3 linked regions of the Homo sapiens genome follow. The protein of the gene in region 1 interacts with the protein of each later gene in a biochemical or structural test. Each region holds a gene or a part of one and is shown in the gene's direction. Other genes may lie near its edges.

The links. Proteins that work in one complex are often made in the same cells at the same time.
Region 2: the proteins of SUB1 (region 1) and POU2AF1 form a complex in vitro, tested with the Homo sapiens proteins (one study listed by BioGRID).
Region 3: the proteins of SUB1 (region 1) and REST form a complex in vitro, tested with the Homo sapiens proteins (one study listed by BioGRID).

Annotation. Positions count from the first base shown.
Region 1 is NC_000005.10:32,588,549-32,595,576, forward strand, and holds part of SUB1 (activated RNA polymerase II transcriptional coactivator p15), read left to right. Parts: coding exon 1-36; intron 37-3,014; coding exon 3,015-3,137; intron 3,138-7,028.
Region 2 is NC_000011.10:111,369,272-111,376,299, reverse strand, and holds part of POU2AF1 (POU domain class 2-associating factor 1), read left to right. Parts: intron 1-7,028. UniProt on the Homo sapiens protein: Transcriptional coactivator that specifically associates with either POU2F1/OCT1 or POU2F2/OCT2. It boosts the POU2F1/OCT1 mediated promoter activity and to a lesser extent, that of POU2F2/OCT2. It recognizes the POU domains of POU2F1/OCT1 and POU2F2/OCT2.
Region 3 is NC_000004.12:56,903,975-56,910,903, forward strand, and holds the start of REST (RE1-silencing transcription factor), read left to right. Parts: upstream 1-3,925; 5' UTR 3,926-4,239; intron 4,240-4,935; exon of another isoform or gene 4,936-5,613; intron 5,614-6,655; 5' UTR 6,656-6,664; coding exon 6,665-6,929. UniProt on the Homo sapiens protein: Transcriptional repressor which binds neuron-restrictive silencer element (NRSE) and represses neuronal gene transcription in non-neuronal cells.

The DNA of each region.
Region 1 (7,028 bases):
TCTGGCAGTGATTCTGACAGTGAGGTTGACAAAAAGGTGACTACTGCTGCACCAAGTCATTTTGGTGATACTCAACAATATTGTCCATATCCCATTCTGAAGGATAGTAAAAGGTGTATTAACATCTTAAAATGAGGATCTAGCTGGGCGCGGTGGCTCATGCCTGTTATCCTACTTCTTTGGGAGGCCGAGGTGGCAGGATTGCTTGAGGCCAAGAGTTCAAGACCAACCAGGCTAACATAGCAAGAACCTGTCTCTTTAAAAAAATAAATAAATAAAAAATAAAAAATAAGAATGTGAATGGGTATTTCTGGAGGTACGGTTGGTCTCTGGACCACTTGACTAGAAGTGCCTAGGATGCTTTTTGCACATTCATACTCATAGGCCCTAAATCAGACTTAACAAGTCTTCTGTTGAGCATCATTAGGAACCCTAAAGTTGCAGAAACACTGCCTTGCATCCTAGGGTCATAGAATTCTAAGTAGGCCAAAGTCACTATTTGCCGTTATTTAGAAATTTACCAGATTTTTTTTTGTAAAATGTTAATTTTTTTTTTTAAAGACAGGGTCTTACTCTCTTGCCGAGGCTGGAGTGTGGTGGCACCATCATGGCTCACTGCAGCCTCGACCTCCTGGTCTCAAGCAGTCCTCCCACCTCTGCCTCCAGAGTAGCTGGGACTACAGGCATCATGCCTGGTTAATTAAAAAAAAAATGTTTTTGTAGGGACCAGGTATTGCTGTGTTGCTAAGGCTGGTCTCAAACTCCTGGCCTCAGGCAATTCTTCTGCCTCAGACTCCCAAAGTGCTGGGATTACAGGTGTGAGCCATCATGAGTGGCCATAAAATGTTAATTTTGACAGTTCTCTTAGTTACTGGTGTTTATTCTGCACATAAGGTTTTCTGAATTTTAGACTTGGTACATTTTTAAGTTTGTACTAAGTTTGTGCTCTGGTCCCTTCCATTTAATTAAATCAGCACGCAGTAAAGCTAACTTGAAACCCATTGACAAGATAGGCTTTTTCTGCATTAGATGACAGCTGCACCGTAATTGGTGAATTTCGCTAAATTGAGCATCTCAGTGGAGCATAACTGAGCGTCTCACTCTGCGGTCAAGTCTTCCGTGCAGAATTGTCTTTTATCGCATAGAACTTTACATATCTGAAGAGATATTTATATCCTAGAAATAGAATAAGTTGGTCGTGTTTTTCCTAATTAGTATATATCCTTTGTAAAATAGTAAGTAATGACTAGCACTGGTAGACCTGTGATTTCCGAAAGTTTATTCAAAAGAAGCAGGCTCCCTATCTTTTTTTTTTCCTCCTGAAGCTTAGCAATTTTAGCTAAAAGAAAAGGGGAGAGCGTATGGGAGATTGGAGAAGTTGCAACCTTAAAGTATAAATATAGAATATAACAACACATGGAAGGGTAAAATAAGGCTTCAAAGACTATACTTGAGTAAATTTCTTAATTTTAAAATTTGCACCCTATATAGTATTTGAGTATGTTGATGTAACACATGTGTATTGAGCTTTTATTTGCCAGACATGCACTATTCCACAGGGAATACTTAGAGCCTGATTTATAGAATAATTGCTTTCTGCATATTGAGCTAACTTTTTGTTTGTCCCAAATAGTAATATTACTCTTGTAAACACTTAACCTTGTATACCACATTTTTCATTTCATGTTTTACATGTATATAATATTTTTCCTAGCTTCATCTAATTTGGTAACATTCAATTAATTTAGTAACATTAAAATATTTATACTATTCCATCAAGAAGGAACATGACTGCCCTCTTCTGTTTGGGTTGGGTATTGTAGTGGTTTTTATGGGTTAGCTCTTTTTGAGAATGCGACTTTCTAATAAGCTTTTAAAATAATGCTGTTTTTAAAACAACGTTGTGATTTTTGAAAGCTAGTCTAACACATAGCTGTCTACAATGATTTTTTTTTTTTTTGTAATGAGGAAGTTCTTGAGTTGCTGGCTGTCAGTGCCCAGTGCAAAATAGCTCTCTAAAGATTTGCCTAATTGTAAATTCCTTTTTTTTTAATTTTTTATTTTGAGATGAAGTTTTGCTTTTGTTGCCCAGGCTGGAGTGTAATGGCGCGATCTCGGCTCACTGCAACCTTCGCGTCCCGGGTTCAAGCGATTCTCCTGCCTCAGCCTTCCGAGTAGCTGGGATTACAGGCGTGTGCCACCACGCCTGGCTAATTTTTTTTTTTTTTTTTTTTTTTGAGATGGAGTATCGCTCTGTTGCCCAGGCTGGAGTGCAATGGCACGATCTCGGCTCACTGCAACCTCAGCCTCCTGGATTCAAGCAGTTCTCTGCCTCAGCCTCCCTAGTAGCTGGGATTATAGGTGCCCACCACCACGCCTGGCTAACTTTTTTTGTATTTTTAGTGGAGATGGGGTTTCACCATGTGGCCAGGCTGGTCTCGAACTCCTGACCTCAAGTGATCCTCCCGCCTCGGACTCCCAAAGTGCTGGGATTACAGGTGTGAGCTACCGCGCCCGGCCCATAAATTCCTTAAGCCAGCATAAATTCCTTTTGGAATAGGCAGGACATAAATAAACATATCCTGGAAATGGAATAAGTTGGTTATATTCTTTTTAATTAGTATATCTGCTTCGTAAAATAAGTAACTGACTAGCCTTAGTAGACTGTGGTTTCCAGGTTTATTCAGAAGTAGCAAGATCCCTCCATTTTTTTTTCTACCAAAGAAATCGTATGTGGGATCCCAAACCACAAAATAACCGTTCCTGTGGTTAATACTACTATAATGCCTGAAGTGTCTTTTGGGATCCTGAGAACAGAGTTTGAAAACATTACTAGACAGAAGGATTGGTTAGATTCATAGTTTTGTTGTTGAGTGAAACTTGCTTATGTATATATTTATGATATTTTGGATGTAGTCTTTTGATTGTTTAAATCTTAAAAAGTAATGGGATCTTTTGACACTGGGGTATGTTTTATTTTTATGTGTGCAAATTTTAACCATATTCTTTTCTAGTTAAAGAGGAAAAAGCAAGTTGCTCCAGAAAAACCTGTAAAGAAACAAAAGACAGGTGAGACTTCGAGAGCCCTGTCATCTTCTAAACAGAGCAGCAGCAGCAGAGATGATAACATGTTTCAGGTAAAGTTGGCTATTTTTTTTTTTTTTTTTTTTGACATGGAGTCATGCTCTGTCACCCAGGCTGGAGTGCAGTGGCGCCATCTCGGCTCACTGCAACCTCAGCCTCCTGAGTTCAAGCAGTTCTCTGCCTCAGCCTCCCGAGTAGCTAGGATTACAGGCATCCGCCACCAGACCTGGCTAATTTTTGTATTTTTAGTAGAGATGGGGTTTCACCATCTTGGCCAGGCTGGTCTTGAACTCCTGACCTTGTGATCCAACTGCCTCAGCCTCCAAAAGTGCTGGGTTTACAGGTGTGAGCCACCATGCCTTGCCAAAGTTGGCTGTTTCTTTAGATTCAGAGGAATTATTATCTGGCTTGATCTGAAGAATGTTAAAAGTACTATGATCTGATAATTGCCTAATATGTATGTTACAATCTTCTTAACTAGGGACATTTATTAAAATAGAACAAACTAGTAAAAGTATTTTGTACGATGCTGGATTATTGTTAAAGTCTCTAAAGTCTAGTTTTGCTGTATTTAAACCAATGCAAATTTAATTGAGAACTGCACATTTTGAAAGCAACTTGGAGGAGGCAGGTCAAGTGTTGGGACAGTAAAGTATGAATAGATTATTATGGGACAGGAAGCAGCAATGTGACATGCCTAATTTTGGCCTGATGAGCAACAGAAAAGGGGAATGGGTTGAATAGATAAAGTGAAGGAAGTTCATTAGAGGGACTTGATGAAATCACCTAGAGAGGACTCGTATAGCTTTTTCTCTTGGGTTTCCTGTCTTGTTTTAGGGAGACTTGACACTGGCATCTTTGTACAAGAAGGATTTGTGAGGAAGGGATGTTGGGGAATAAATGAATGCAGGTGAGATTGCTTAGGTAATTGTAGGCTTTAATCTGTATGTGAGGTGATAAGGGCTTAGATGGTTTTTCCTAAAGAAGAAATTATGCCAATTACAAGATACAGGTTAGGAAGAATGGACCAGAGGAATTAGGCAGTCAGTGAAGATGTGGACTTGATTGTGGATGTGATTGAAAAAAAAAATGGTGTTGCTTCTGTAGCACCTGAAGGGCTTAGTTGGGAAATGTTCATGTGGGATTATCAGCATGGTTGACTAAAGCTGCCTACTGAAGTATTAAACAGAGGAAGAACAGGAAGCAGATGAGGGGATGTCTTGGGTTATATTCAGATAGAGAATGGAAGGAAAAAGAGGATGTAGGTTAAGAGAGAGGGTGAAGGAAAATTAGAAGAGTGCAGTAATGGGAGCAAGAAAAGGATGAGTGTTTCCAGGAGCTATAAGTATTAGTTGAAACCAAAAAGTTGGGTGGAACGAGACTACAATTTTTTTTTTGAGACAGGGTCTCTGCTCTGTCACCCAGGCTGGAGTGCAGTGGTGTGATCTCTGCTCACTGCAACTTCCGCTTCCTGGGCTCAAATGATCCTCCTGCCTCAGCCTCCTGAGTAACTGGGACTACAGGCAATGCTCCATGACGCCTGGCAAATTTTCTTTGTTGTTGGTAGAAACAGTATTGCCCAGGCTGGTCTTGAACTCCTGAGCTCAAGTGATGCGCCCACCTTGGCTTCTGAAAGTGCTGGGATTACAGGCGTGAGCCACCGTGACTGGCCAAGACTGTAGACATTTATATGACTAGAAAGTAAGGCTAACACATGTATATTTTGACCTGTTGATAACTTTGAAAGGTGGAGTGCCAAGATTAAGGTGAGAATGGGAAAATTTAAGTTTTTTTTTTCCTATTGCTTATTTTTGCCTTGTTATACTTCTAGGTAAAAAAGATAGACAAAGTGCAGATGAACTATTTAGTTCAGAACACACATTTTAGAGATTCTGTTCTGTTAAGAGGAGTTTTGTGAAAACTAGATCTAATTTTAGGAATTTTCTCACCAGAAAAACGGAGCTTCATTTCTTAAACCCTCATCTGGAAAGATTCCTAAGCCTCCTAAGGCTGACATTGCACCTTTTGAAAGCCTGCCTCTAGGAGGAACATAGGTCATCTTTTCTTTTTTTTTTTTTTGAGACGGAGTCTCGCTCTGTCACCAGGCTGGAGTGCAGTAGCACGAATCTCGGCTCACTGCAACCTCCGCCTCCTGGGTTCAAGAGATTCTCCTGCCTCAGTCTCCTGAGTAGCTGGGACTACAGGCATGCGCCACCACCCCCAGCCAATTTTTGTATTTTTAGTAGAGACGGGATTTCACCTGGTTGGCCAGGATGGTCTCGATCTCTTGACCTCGCCATCTGCCTGCCTTGGCCTCCCAAAGTGCTGGGATTACAGGTGTGAGCCACGGCGCCCAGCCTAGGCCTTATTTTCAGAGTGGCTTTCATGGATCTAGTAGTGTAGGCATTATGAAATAATATGATACTTAATTTCATTGCCATTACAGCTTGATGTACATCAAACATCAATACATAAGCAGTTCTCTAAATGTATTAAAGAGTTGTACCAAAGAAAAATCAATAGACTTATCTTTTAAAGTCTGAAGTGATTGGGGCAGAATCGTGACTAGAGAGAAGATACTAGAGATGCTTACTTCCTGGTTCCTTCAGCTCTGATTTTGAAGAACTTTCTTCCATAGGGATGTAGTCTACCTGAGGTGACATCTGTGATAGTAAAGAGACTGGAGAATTATCTCATAATTATTTAGTACCTGTGTCTTGAAAGGTCAGAATAGTTGAGGCAGGAAACTTTAATCCATATTTTTCTTCAGAGTTAGGCACAAAGGGTCAGTAATACTGCTTTAGTTTATTTGATGATTTAAGGATACTTGATACTTTTAAATTATTTAATTTAAAATGATTATAACTGGTCATTTTAATCTGGGGCAGGAGTCCATAGAATTGTTTTTTAATTTGAGTTTTCTTTTTTGTGTTTGAAGGAATTATTCATAACCTTTATCACAGGGGTCCCTCCTGCACAGGAGGTGAGCGGTGTGTGAGTGAACATTGCAGCCCGAGCTCTGCCTCCTGTCAGATCAGCAGCGGCATTAGATTCTCATAGGAGCGCGAACCCTATTGTGAACTGCGCATGCAAGGGATCTAGGTTGTGCGTTCCTTATTCCTTATGAGAATCTAATGCCTGATGGTGGGATAATTTTTATCCTGAAACGATCACCTTTCCCCTTCCCTACCTGCTGTGGAAAAATTGTCTTCCGTGAGACTGGTCCCTGGTGCCAAAAAGGTTAGGAACCACTGCTTTATCAGATCTTCAGAGGGGACAGGGAATCAAATTCGTATAAGAATCACAGTTCTTTATGATGTATATGCTATTTTTTGCTGCTAATCTCCAGATTTTGTGGATATAAAATATATTGTCATCTGATTTTATTTTTTTCCAATAAAATGTGATTTCAGTGATCTTTATTTTTTCTATCTTTAAGTAATATATCCCTATACTACTATCTCATCACTTGTTTAATTTTTGCTAATAAGAATTTGTCAGTTTTACTCTTTTTTTCCCCCCAAGGGAGAGGCAGCTGTTGGGCAGATTCCTTTTTTTTTTAAAAAAAAAAATGTTTTTGAGGTATAGTTTATGTCCAATAAAACGCACACATTTAAAAGCATACCTTGATAGGCTGTGGTAAATGTACACGCCTTTGTGGCCAGACCATTTTCATCACCCCAGGAAGTTCCTCTTGGCTTTACAGTCATTGCTCATGTCCTAGGTAATCACTGATCTTATTTCTACCACTATAGATTTATGTTGTCTCTTCTAGAACTTTGTATAAATGGATACATGCAGTCTATTTTTTGTGTCTGGCTTTTGCTCAGTATAATGTGTTGAGATTAGTTCTTGTTGCATATATCAGTAATTTTATTGCTGAGTAGTATTTTGTATGATAATACTACAACTTGTAAATCCATTCACCTTGGGTGGACATTGGG
Region 2 (7,028 bases), on another chromosome or scaffold:
TTGCCTGTGCAACTTAGTTCTTTCTTTGTGAGAAGGAAATTTCCATTCATTTCCTTATCTGGGAAGTGGGGATTCTAATGTCTGCCTCCCAAGGTTTTTGTGAGAATTAAAGTAGAGAATGTAGGTAAAATGATAGCAAGTTTCCTGATAAGTAGTGGTAGGGATGAGTTAGTACCTTCCGTCCTGGAAACCACCTGTGGGCCCATCTTGAATGATCAGTGTTATGTTAAATTCATATATTCTTTTCCACACTTTGATTAGAATAGTTAAAAAGCCACAGTCTAAATATTCTTGGGTGATAGGATATTGCAAAATTTTCCAAGGGTCTAAAATAGTGGTCTGCAAACTATGGCCTCTGTGCCAAATCAGGCCTGCCACTCCATTTGTAAATAAAGTTTTATTGGAACACAGCTCTGTCTATCATTTGAATATTGTCTAGGGCTGCTTTTGCAGAGTTGAGTAGTTGTGACAGAGACTGTGCAGCATACAAAGCCTAAAATATTTTCTCTCTGGCTTATAATAGAAAAACATTGCCAACCTCTGGTCTGAGATGATTTGCTTGGTTCTTCAGGCATTCATTTCCTTAAGATACTCAGTATCAGGCCGGGTGCGGTGGCGGGCGCCTGTAATCCCAGCACTTTGGGAGGCCAAGGCGGGCAGATCACGAGGTCAGGAGATCGAGACCATCCTGGCTAACATGGTGAAACCCCGTCTCTACTAAAAATACAAAAAAATTAGCTGGGGTTGTGGTGGCAGGCCCCTGTAGTCCCAGCTACTCGGGAGGCTGAGGCAGGAGAATGGCATGAACCCGGGAGGCGGAGCTTACAGTGAGCCGAGATCGTGCCACTGCACTCCAGCCTGGGGTACAGAGCGAGACTCCGCCTCAAAAAAAAAAAAAAAAAAAAAAAAGATACTCAGTATCCTGGGGTTGTACATTGCCAACACCAATGGGAAATAAAACTTGCAGCCAATTCATTAAATAATTTGTACAATGCCCCAAACTGATTTGATTGAATTTCTTCCTTAAAAGTGATAGAACTGTGTATAATAAACTGAACTCCATTTGTTAGAAAGTGAACAAATTGGACAGTTGCTTTTTATTGTTGTTGTTTGTATTAGGGAACAATCTACATGCTAATGAAAGGCAGGCTTGACTGATTTTCTTTGGACTGGCTGATTGTCTTGGTGTCCTGTGGACTTGGCCTTGGAACAGGAAATAATTCGTATCAGATTATTATGTCATGGATATGCCTTTGCTTTCAGACAACTTGAACAGAGCAGAGATTTAGCAAACAGAAAAATTAAGGACTTAAAATTCTCATCAACATAGAACTCTGCTCTTCAGATGTACTCTAGGGTTCCACTAAAGAGCCAATATTGTTTGGGAGGCAGTTAAAGATAAGTAAAATGTGTACTATGCATATAATTTTTGGAAGCCTATCTCCTACATAAATTTAAGCACAACTTACAATGAGAGGTAATTTAGGTTTCTGGACAACCTCTAATATTTCTATTCTATGTTACAACCTTTGCTTATTTAATAAGCCTAGTGAGCACCTTTACTTCTTACCAAGTTGATTCCATTGATTCAGCAGTTCTTTTTTTGAGATAGAGTCTTGCTCTGTCACCCAGGCTGCAATGTAGTGGTGCAAGATCAGCTCACTGCAACCTCTGCCTCCAAATTCAAGTGATTCTCCTGCCTCAGCCTCCTGTGTAGCTGAGATTATAGGCACATGCCACAATGCCCAGCTAATTTTGCATTTTCATTGGAGATGGAGTTTCACTATGTTGGCCAGGCTGGTCTCGAACTCCTGACCTCGAGTGATCCACCTGCCTTGGCCTCCCAAAGTGCTGGGATTACAGGTGTGAACCACCACGCCTGGCCAATTAAGCAGTTCTTGCTGTTAAGGGCAAGTAGAATCCAAAAGAGAGACACAAATTCACGTGCACTGTCTGGAGGTGAAATAAAGGACAAACATCAACCAAATACACAGATTTAATTGGTAAAAAAGCAGATGATGTTCTTGATGGATATTTTACTTCCTGCCCCTTATATTTATTTACTAAAGAAAATGCCAGATTTGTCCCCAAAGTTACTGACTCAGAAGTTTTGAAAGCTCTCTCCCAATTCACACTTGGGATTCTGTTCTTTCATGAGGAACCAAAAAAAAAAAAAAAAAAAATCAAGTTTGCCTACAGCTGTTCATTAAATATGTGGACATTTAATTCATAAAGAAGTCTTATAAATATTTGCTTTTAACTTTCCCATTACAAAGTGTTTTTTCCCCCTTTGACATCTTTCTAAAGTAGTTTATCTTCCCACTTAATGAAGATGTCCACCTATTTCTTATTCTGAGCCAACCAAACCAAAGTTGGCTAATTGATTATGAACATTAACATAATTCTCACCTTTATGAAATGCTTAATAACACTCTAGTTTTCTCATTTTTGTAGAACTGCTTGACAACTAAGTGAGCCTACCTGGGATGGGGAGGCCTTCTCTGAAACCCTCTTGTCCCGCTTGTGTGATACTGGGGACAAGCACTTGTAGGCAGGAGCCAGGGGTTTTACTTTCCATTCTACAGATAATTAGATGAGAGACCTTAAGCAAGCCACCTAACCACTTTGGGTCTCAAATGTTCTAGTGCTGGAATGGAACTTGCCTTTTCCTGGCTAATTTTCCTGGAGATTGAACTTGATTGAGGTTCTTTGCCAGCTCTAATTGCTGAGTTTTCCTGAGTGTTTATACAAAAAATAAATTAAAGTTTAAAATCAGAAGTCCTTAATTTAATAGATGGGATTCTTCTATCTGCTTAGGGCAGTGTTTTTATACCTTGGCTACACACTGGAATGCTCTGAGGAGATTTAAGAAACACAGATGCCTGGATCTCAACCTAGAGCTTCTGATTAAATTGTCTTGGGCATTGAAGGAGAGCTGCAAATGGCTCCCAGGTGAGAAGGCTGAGAACTGCTGACCTGGAGGTTGAAATGGATGGCTTCTAATAAACCTTTGGGCATTGCTAAGAGCAGAAGAATGCTCAATCCTTTTAACAGTGATAAACAAACATCTCTGGGGAATGGAGAACTTATTTGGTGCTATGCAGTATACAAAATGTTCTGTTGGATCAGTTTGGATTACATTTGATTGCTGGTGAAGAGACCTGAAATAACGTAGATTTAAGTAAGACAGTGGTGTCCTTTCTCTCACATAAAAGAAGTCCACAGTAGGGTGTTCAGGATCTTATGGAGTCTCACAGTGCCAACATCATCCCAGGCTCCTTTTTCCTTTCTAATCTGCCATCCTTGGCATGTGGCTCTTGTCCTCAAGATTTTTTTCATAGTTGCCATTGTAACTCCAGCCATTACATCTGTGAGCATCACATCTTCGGACAAGCAAGAAGAAGAAAAAGGAATAGCAAAAGATCATGCCTCCTGATCGCTGCCCCTTCTCCCTCCCAACACACAACTTCTGCTGACATCTGATGCCATTTCTATCTACAAGGGAGAATAGCATAATTGTTTAGCTGGGCACATTGCCACCCTCCATAATGCAGGGGCTGTTAGAAAGGAAGGGAAGGTGGATGTTGAGTGTAACAACTGCCAGTCTTCACTATGCTTTGAGTGCATTATCTCATTTAATCCTCATAAAAACTCCATGAAGCAGATTCTGTTGTAAGGTTCATTTTATAGATGAGGAAACTGAATCATGAAGATTAAGTTAGTAACTCTCCTACAAAGCAAAATTCATGTGAACAGACCTCAAGTGTTGGCCTGCTAAGCTGTCCTGTCTCCCTGCCACAGTGCCTGTCTCTCTCACATTGCTTAGGAAGTATTCTTGGTAAAAGCACAGGCCTTCCATGTCAGATAAGGGACCAATGGCAAAAAAAAGCCCTGCAGATGGTAGTTCATACCATGAGAACCCATTTTGTTTAACATTTACTTCAGCTTACCTGTTGAAGAAAACAAGGTCTCTGCTTGCTGCTGGGCCTCTTCTGCGGGACAGTTTGAAGATATTTTAGCTATAATAAAAGGCTCAGAGAAGGATCTAGAGTTTGCCCCCAAATAACCCAGCCCTACTCTTTTCTGGGCAGTTTTAGTAGAGAGCCCGATGTAGCAGGCAGCCTTTGCTGGGAGCCAAGGCTTCTGCCTCCGTGGCACTTCCTTGATTCTGAACTTTCTAGACTTTGGAAAAGTCAGGCTGCTCCTTCATCTCTCTCTCTCTCTCTCTCTGTGTGTGTGTGTGTGTGTGTGTGTGTGTGTGTGTGTGTGTATTTGTGTGTGTTTAGGTGGGGTGTGGAGAGTAAGATGTAGAGAGTAGGGTTTAACTTTGAGTTAGAGAGTGACACTTCTGTTCTTTCTTTGCCTTTAGTAGTTAAAGCTTAGCTTCTGGGGCAGGCAGATCTGAGTTTGAGTCCTAGGTTTATGCCTTACTGGTTGTGTGACACTGGTAAGTCCTTTTTCCTCCTTCTGCCACCATTTCTTTATAGGCATGCACCAGAGGTGTGACTCTTACCTTATGGGATTGTGGTAGGGGTTTTCTGCTGTGCTTGGCATTAAGTAAACACTCAATAAATATTAGTTGCTATTATTATTTTCCCATTCTGTCACAATCTACCTCTGAAGACAAAGGTTATGCCGGCTAATTTTAGATTACAATTTGTATGTCCTCTGAGTTCTGAATTTCTTGTGAAATGGCAGGGCACACATCTCCAGTCTTGTAACTTGTGGTGGGTTAGTGATCATGGTTACTTCTGATGATTAATCTGACCATTCTGTGATCAAACTTGGAACTCGCGTCACAATTTTCCTACCGACCTTGTAAGGTAGGGTGGCGGCAAGACTTGTACTGACTGGCAAACTCGTGTTTGTTTTTTTAATTCACAAGATTGGACTGAGTGTTTGTAATCTAGTTGTGAGCAGAATGACACTTGAAATATGCAAGAAATAGATACCGAAAACTGAAACAACAATGTGTGGCCTCCTTTTCTTAGTAACAGTTTCATTAGTACCACTTTCTGGGAAGAGCTGGTCACCAAAAGATTATAAACCAGAATCATTCTCAGACCAGGTGCTGGGACAAAAAAGGATTTGACCAGTCTTAAACTGAATTACTTTTTAATGCACTAGAAAGAGCCATACATTTCATTGGAAGACAGCAAGCATACAGGACATTGTTAAAACTTTCCAGGACTAGGAAACGCTGAGGTGACAGAAAGGAAAGAAAAGAAGAGAGGCAAGAGAGTTGACAATAGAAGCAAGTCTTAATGTTGGATGAAAGGTACACCAATTCAGGAAGGAAAGGTATAGAAGGAAAATCAACCATCTATTCATCATCCCATGCAGGTATGCATCCCTCTAAGCATCCATCCAATAATGGAATTATTTCCAGCTAGAGAAACCAACCAATGAAATAAATTATCTTCAGCAGAAGGTGGGGATGATGGAATCAGGGAAGGTGTCATGGAACATATAGCATTGGGTTTGGATCCTGAAGAATAGATGGTAATCAGACTTCTTGCTTAGATCCTGGGGTGTGCAGATGCATCTTAGGACATAAAATATTAGCACTGGGAAGAAAATCCAAGGATTTTAGGCTGATGTCTATAACATTTTTGCTACAAACTCCCTTATTCAAACCAAATCTACTGTAGAACTTCAGTATAAGAATAAAAATCGTGCGGTTTTGGGGGGCTATCTGGAGCTCTGATTGCTCATGTTCCCCCACATTTCCCTGCCATTCTCACTCTGTTGGCACCTGCAGGCACCATAACTATATTCCAGGGTTCTTCAGGTCACAGCTGGATCCCCCTGACCTGGCCAATCTACCCCTCTTTTTAGCAAGATCCCTGCTAGCTGGTCACAGAGAGTGGCAGTGAGTGGCTGTGAAACATATTGCATTGGTCTTCATCAAGCTCTGAAGCTGTGAAGACTATGTGTTCGGTCTTTGTGGGTCTCTTGTGAATAAAGAGGAGGTAAATTCCTAAAAAACTGACCAAGTGACTTCTTTCTCAGGCTTGATACTAACAACCACTCCCCTTCTCCAATGTCTTTCATAAAGGAATCCCTTGCATCATGAGGGCCATTGGTTAGCAAAGCTGAACATTATCCAGAAAGCTCCTCTTGACCAGCTGTGATGTTTCTCATGAATCCATTGTTAGGGCTACTCTCACTTGCGAAGGCTACACCCCAGGCCACCATGAGCCTTGGAACTTGGGCAGTTGGGTCTGACCCCAAATACAAAACTAATGCTGGGATCTGAAGAGTCCATTCTCCAAGAAAGTGGTCCTTACATGATGGTCTCAGGAAAAGTTAAGTTTTTTCAATAAAGCTCTTTAGTCTTGAAAAGCCAAAATTAGATATTGCTTGAATCAAGGAACAAAAAATCGGATATCCATCTGCCTCCTCCAGCTGCCTAACCACAGGTTATTCCCATCCTAGCTCAGATGGGCAATTCTAGATTCAAGCCTTGATCTAATAAGGAAAGAGACAGCCCTTTCCTCTGCTCCATCCCTCACTATGGTACTGCCTTGCTATAGAATTGGGGTGGCCACTGGGGTAGGTGGACTCTCCTCATTCACCTTCTGGTCTGGGACGGTAGGTCTGGAGCTCTGTTTAGGCCCTTTCTCTTTCCTGATGCCCCACTCTCAGCAAATTTGAGGCAATGCCAAATATGTAATCCAGGAATCTGCTTTGCTCTACAAGGTGATAAAACTCCCATCTATGGGCACTGAAGAGCCCTCCCTTGCCCATTGCCACATTTCTATTCCATATGCGATATGTGCTCCTAGGTTTCTAGCCCCCTTGAGGGAGTATCTACAACATAGCCTCAGCCATGGCTGTGTCCCTGGCCTTTAGGAGATACATATAGGTTCCTTAAGGGGCTGCATCTGAGGTCAGGACAAGGGAATGCCATCATACTCTGTCTGCAACCTAATCGCTGCCATTCAAAAATATCCAAGGTTTTTCATTTCTGAAGTCATACTTTAAAAACTCACATCTGCTGCAAACCTAATCCTCTGGTGACTTCT
Region 3 (6,929 bases), on another chromosome or scaffold:
GTGCTGGGATTACAGGCGTGAGCCACCGCACCTGGCCAAAACAGATTGTTAATGATCACCAAGGAATATCCAACCAGAGGCTGATGCGTGAAATCAGGAATGTGCTAGGAATACAATATGCAGAAGAGCAGGCAGGGAGATTTTCACCAGGAGGGTAGAACCCCAAGACCAGGGATCCAGGAGCATTAATTTATTTAACAGTAGTTATTAGGGAGATTCAAGGAGGCAGGCTCATGCTTAACATGAGGGAAGACTGTGATGGGTACTGAACGTTGGGTACCGACATGGGTAAGGATGGTCCCCACTTTGAGAGATTGTGATACCAAGCTAGGATTTTGTAACCATTCATCTAACTAATATTTGTTGAGCAACTAACGAGTTATAGGTGCTGGGGATAAAAAAATGTCTCTGCCTTTCTGGAGCTTAAGTTCCTAAGTAGGGTAAATAAATAAAAATACCTAGCATGTTAGTAATAAATGTTAGAGACAGAAACAGCAGGGAAGGGCATTAGGATTGGACGAAAATGGGAGCAGAAACAGCAGGGAAGGGCATTAGGATTGGACGAAAATGGGAGCGGGTTCCAAATGTGATCTAGGCTCCAAAAGAAGGCAGGAAGGAGCCCAGCTCAAGTCTCAAGTTCTCTTGTTCACCTCCTTCCCTTCTCAGCATGAAGGGAAAACCTCCCTGGCTCAAGCTGTTGATGCCTATAATGAGTAAGACACTATTCCAGTTATCAGAACCAGAACAAGAGGTCAGAGTCCAACCGGCAGCAAGAGTAGATGATGCTGGCTGGACTCGGTGGCTTACACAGGTAATCCCAGCACTTTGGGAGGCCGAGGCGGGTGGATCACCTCAGGTCAGGAGTTCGAGACTAGCCTGACCAACATAGTGAAACCCCATCTCTACTAAAATACAAAAATTAGCTGGGCGTCCTAGCGGGTGCCTGTAATCTCAGCTACTCGGGAGGCTGAGGCAGGAGAATTGCTTGAACCCAGGAGGCAGAGGTTCCAGTGAGCCAAGATCTTGCCACTGCATTCTAGCCTGGGCGACAGAGCAAGACTCCCAGGCGGGGTGGCTCACACCTGTAATCCTAGCACTTTGGGAGGCCCAGGCAGGTGGATCATCTGAGGTCAAGAGTTCAAGACCAGCCTGGCCAACATGGTGAAACACCATCTCTACTAAAAATACAAAAATTAGCCAGACAAGGTGGCACGTGCCTGTAATCCTAGCTACTCGGGAGGCTGAGGCAGGAGAATCACTTGAACCCGGGAGGTGGAGGTTGCAGTGAGCCGAGATCGCACCTTTGCATTCCAGCCTGGGTGACAGAGCAAGACTCCATGTCAAAAAAAAAAATAATATATATATATATATATAATTGGCCAGGTGTGGTGGCTCACGCCTGTAATCCCAGAACTTTGGGAAGCCGAGGCAGGCGGATCACCTGAGGTTGGGAGTTCGAGACCAGCCTGACCAACATGGAGAAACCCCCGTCTCTAACTAAAAATACAAAATTAGCTTGGCGTGGTGGCACATGCCTGTAATCCCAGCTACTCGGGAGGCTGAGGCAGGAGAATTGCTTGAACCCGGGAGGCGGAGGTTGCGGTGAGCCGAGATCGTGCTATTGCACTCCAGCCTGGGCAAAAAGAGCCAAATTCTGTCTCAAAAAAAAAAAAAAAAAAAAAAAGAAAGAAATCTCTCTAGAGAAAATACTATTAAGAACATATGATAATTAAAATAAAAAAATTGATGAGTTAAATATGCAGGAAAAAAACCATATAAGAAAAGCAGAACTCATTCTCATTTCAGAGTTTTTATCTTGCAGAAGATCCTAAAGTTTGGATACAGCAAAGTAAAATACAGACTTTTGAAAAACAGTTAGGAATTCAAGTTCATAGCAACAGCTTCCCTCAAGAAAATTTTCAATTGATTTGTAATTTGGCCTATGAATTTGACCTGTGGCCTTCATGTCATGATAATTTGGGTCACTCTGAATATGCCATCCCTTGAACAAGGGCCTCTGCTAATTTTAAATGAATGCAGCTGCCCATTCGCCATTCTTCTATTTGCATCACAATATGTGGGAATAAATTTGCAATTAATAAGACATTTCCAGTAAGCAGTCAGATTGAGGAAATGAAGGACATTTAGTAAGTTTAACAAGAGACATTTCATTTTTGCCTTTTTGGACCTAAAAAAGGGAAAGAAAACAAGTTTATGTCTTTGACAACCTTGGTAGAGGCCTGAATTGTACCCTGGGCTACAGCATCTAAAAAAGCCATGTGACCTCAAACTTGATTTTAGTTAAACAAATAAAATATATATAGAAAAGTTTGTACCAGTCCTAAAAATGTCGATCTTCCTTTCCTCCCTCCCTCCCTCCCTTCCTTCCTGTCTCTTTGGTTCAATGAAAATGAATACTTTTCAGGTTTGATTCATGGAGAGGTGTTACATTTGAAATTGCCTCATTGAAACTTTTGGTGGTCGAGCACCTTAGGGTCTTCATTTCATCTTGCATCGGAGACTGCATTAATTAGTAATATATTGTCCAGATAGAGGGAAACAGAGGTCCTACGTGGGTATACCAGGAAATGAAGAGTCTGGAAGCCCTGCCCTAAGAGAAACAAATAAAGGAACTTCAAAGAGAAGGAAGTGAGGTACCCTGAGGAGAAGCTGGGATGTCTTAACAACTGCTTTGGGATTTTGAGCTTGCCCTTTTCACTGTGTAGAGTGTTCCTTGCCCTACTTTCCACCTGTTGAAGTTTTCCTCATTCTCCAAGGTCAGACTGAATACATCTACTGTGAAAAGTTTCTAGAACCTCTTGGGATCCATCTTCCTACTGGCAAACCCCCATAGCACTTGCTACTTATGTTGTAATACCAAGCAATAGTCAGACTTATCTAGGTCAAGTTAAGTAGGGGCTTGAACGCCACACTAAGGGGTTTAAGCTTTAAGCTTGTAGTCATGGGGAGCCACTATGCTTCTGAGGACAGGTGTGACTTACGACTGACGTTTAGGAAGGTATCAAAGGCAGACTGAGAAGCTCTTTCAGGTGTGAAAGGGGGTGGAATTACTCTCTCTCTGTTCTTTTTTGTTGTTTTTGTTTTTGTTAGCACATGACTATGGGCTAGGCATTCCGCTTGGTTATCCCGCTTCATAGACGTGAGCCCGGTTACTCCGACACACCGTGGCCCCAGGCAGCCTCCCCGTCCTCACCACCTTTTCTTCTGTCATCTGAGGGTAATTCCTCCCCTGCAGTCGTGCTTTCCGGGCTCAGCAATGACCTGCTACCTGCCACGTCTAGGGATCTGTCCCCTCAGTCCTCACGCTCACGCTTTCTGAGTCCATAACCTCCTTCCTGAAACGTTTTCTTCTCACTTCTCCCAAACTGACTGCATTCCCCCTCCGGTAGTTTGAAATTTGGAAGACTTTTTTTTTTTTTTTTTTTTTTTACCGCAGACGCTTAAAACGAAGCTTAATTAGTCAAGGACAGCTATGGGTGGAGACTTGAAGAGATCTGAAGGGTATCTTGGAGCGCTTTAGACTTGAGAGGCCGGTGACAATAGCTCTAAAGAGACCCGTCAAAGCCTGCGGATTCTTCTTTTAACAGCTCTATTCTCATGCATGCACGCCAGGGCTGGGGGGAACTTTTGTTGTTTGTTTGTAATAGAAATCGAGAAAGGGAGTGGGGCCCGCCTCTTTTCTGACCTAAGGGCAGGAGTGAGGGGCCGGGAGGATTACGGGCGGCTCCCCCTAGACGCGCCCCCAGGCGAGCTGGAGACTGGGGCACTCCTTGCTTGGTAGAGGGGCGGGGCGCGCCTAGCGGCCACGCGCGCGGGCGTCGGAGGGGGCGTGTCTCGCGGGCGCGCGCGGGCGTCGGAGGGGGCGTGTCCCGCGGGCGGTGGCGGCGGCGGCGGCGCGGACTGGGTGCGCGGCGCAGCGTCCTGTGTTGGAATGTGCGGCTGCCGCGAGCTCGCGGCGCAGCAGCGGAGCGAGCGCCGCCGAGGCCCGGGGCCCCAGACCCTGGCGGCGGCTGCCGCAGCCGAGACGGCAGGGCGAGGCCCGGAGGCCTGAGCACCCTCTGCAGCCCCACTCCTGGGCCTTCTTGGTCCACGACGGCCCCAGCACCCAACTTTACCACCCTCCCCCACCTCTCCCCCGAAACTCCAGCAACAAAGAAAAGTAGTCGGAGAAGGAGCGGCGACTCAGGGTCGCCCGCCCCTCCTCACCGAGGAAGGCCGGTAAGTGGGGCGCTGGGCTGGGGGCTCGGTCAGGGTGGGGGAGGGCCGCCCGGGCGGCGGCAGTGGCGGGACGGGGAGGGCGCGGAAGGACGCGGAGTCAGGCGCTGTCCAGGGCTGATTTGCAGATACTGTGGCTCCGGCGGCGGCGGCCCCGCCGGGCGGGGGCTGGCGGCCGAGCAGGATCGGGTTACACAGCAGCCGCCCGGGGGCTGGGGGCGTTTGTTGGGAGCAGCGCGTCGCCTGGACCCCCTCCCCACTGGAGGCTGGGACGCCGCCTCCGCGCTGGCCCGGACGCTCCACCGAGTCAGGTCCTTTGAGGCCAAGGAGCGGAGCTGCTCGGGCCCGTAGTCCTGAAACTTCCTCTGCTTCCTCCTCCTGCCCCCGGGTCCCACCGCAGCCCCGCGCCGGCCCGCGGCCCTCCTGGCCCCCTCCCCCAGGGCCTCTCCCTGTCGCCGGAAGGCGCCGTTGAGTGCGGCCGGGCGGGTTGAGTCAGCCCCGGGGCCCGGGCGGTTCCGCCTGCGGGGCTGGACAGCGATTTCTGCGCTTCAGCCGTCCGGCGCCGCTGGCCCCCGCGTCCGGCCACCCGACCGCTGGAGCTGGCGGGGCTGGGGCGCGCGTCCTGCCGGGCGCCGTGGGGGAGTGAAGTTCGCAAACTTCCGGGGCGCGGGGGTGGCGGCTGGCCCGTGTGGGGGCCCCCTCCGGCGCTCGGAGCCCGACGCCTCGCGAGGGCGCCCGCGGAGCCTCCCCGGCCCTGGGCGTTGGGCGAGCCCCGGGGCGGTCGGAGGGGCCCGGGGGCGGTCGGAGAAGCCCGGACGCCGGCTGCGCGGTAACTTTCCGTCCTCTCCCGGGACGGGGGCCCTAGGGCTGGGGAGGGGGCTGCCTGGACTCGGGGAGGACTGGTTCCGGCCAAACAGCGCCTCGAGCTTGATCCCCTCCCCCGTTTTAGTGTTGGAGAGCGCAGGAAAAGGCTCAGGACGAGTGTCGGGGCGACTCCCGCGAGTTGGTGTGTAAATGTGTGCAGTGAGCGGGCCGAGGCGAGAGGAAGCGAGAGCGCCCGAGTTTGCAAAGAGCTGCTTTGTGTTTGGTATTTTGAGAAAATGGCCGAATGCCTATTTCAGTTAGGAATGCCGCCGCCGAGGCAGGCGCTGGTGGCAGCAGCACGGAGGAATTCGTGCAGCACGTTGGGCTTTCGGGCTGTGCCTGGACGGTCTTCCTAACAATCGTTAAAATTCCATTTGGGGTGGCAGTTAGGGGTTAGGGAGCAATTAGAAAAGTCGATGTTGGGCCAAATTACCCAATAGCTTGGGCTGTTCAGCCCCGGGACAGCCTTCGCCCTCTGTTTTCTGTGATGGCATTTGCTTCCAACTTTTGTTGGTACGTAGAACTAAACCGGTTTGTGTTTATACACTTGGGTGAAGCGGGTTACTTTTTGTATTTTCGGTTTAACTTTATTTTCTTAGAACTTCTTACTTTTTTTAATTTGCGAGTGAACACTTCGTTTGAGAATGGCACCTTTTAGATTGAGAAGTAACGTAGCATCTAGAAAGCCCAACTTGTTTTGAAGAAGGTGATCTTGTAATGGCTTCCACTAGGCAAGTAGGCCAAGTCAAGCACAATGCAAGAAAGTTGCTGATTGTCGAGTTGAGTTGCACGATGATTTTATTCGTATTGAAAAGCTTGGAATTCAGTGTTGTGGAACTTCAGCCTGCAGAAAAATAAGCTTATTAATTTTTATTTGTGAAGTTTTGAATAAATCAAACTTCCTTTTTCACAAGAAAAGGGGTCCATAAATGTTTTTTCTTTTAAGCCTGTGGAGTTGTCGAAAAATTAAGGGGCTGACTGCTACTTTTTCACAGTAGTTTATTCTTTTGGAGTTAGTTGAGTTCATGCGAAATCCAATTAAGTTGAACAATTATTACAGGCTTGTACTTTCCAGATGTGTTTGTGTACTTAATAAATGCACTGAATGGCTTGTGGATTTCTGGGCTTTCTGATTCAGACCATTGAACTGTTGAAGGGGGGAAAAGTTGGGAGGACAATAATTTACTACTCATGTTTTGAATTTTTAAAATAATTTTAACAGTAAAAATGAAGGTTACTTTTTATCCCCACCAGAACAATTAAAAGTGCTTGAGGAGGCACCACATGCCAGTGGCTGAATGATGAATGAGTTGTGCAAACAATTGGTAGAATTGTTTTATAGGGATAGTAGAAATTTTTTTTTGGTGATTGCAGTAGACTATTGGGAATTAACAACTATTTTAAAGATTTGTTTTTAATAGGCGATGAAGTTTACTGAGTTATAAAGATCATACTGGAAAATTTTTAAGTTATGAAGAATTACAGCGATGTGGTTTTAAGCCAGTAACAGTAGTGTTTAAACTGGTGCTCTTGTTTTGTTTTGTTTTTAATTCAGAATACAGTTATGGCCACCCAGGTAATGGGGCAGTCTTCTGGAGGAGGAGGGCTGTTTACCAGCAGTGGCAACATTGGAATGGCCCTGCCTAACGACATGTATGACTTGCATGACCTTTCCAAAGCTGAACTGGCCGCACCTCAGCTTATTATGCTGGCAAATGTGGCCTTAACTGGGGAAGTAAATGGCAGCTGCTGTGATTACCTGGTCGGTGAAGAAAGACAGATGGCAGAACTGATGCCGGTTGGGGATAACAACTTTTCAGATAGTGAAG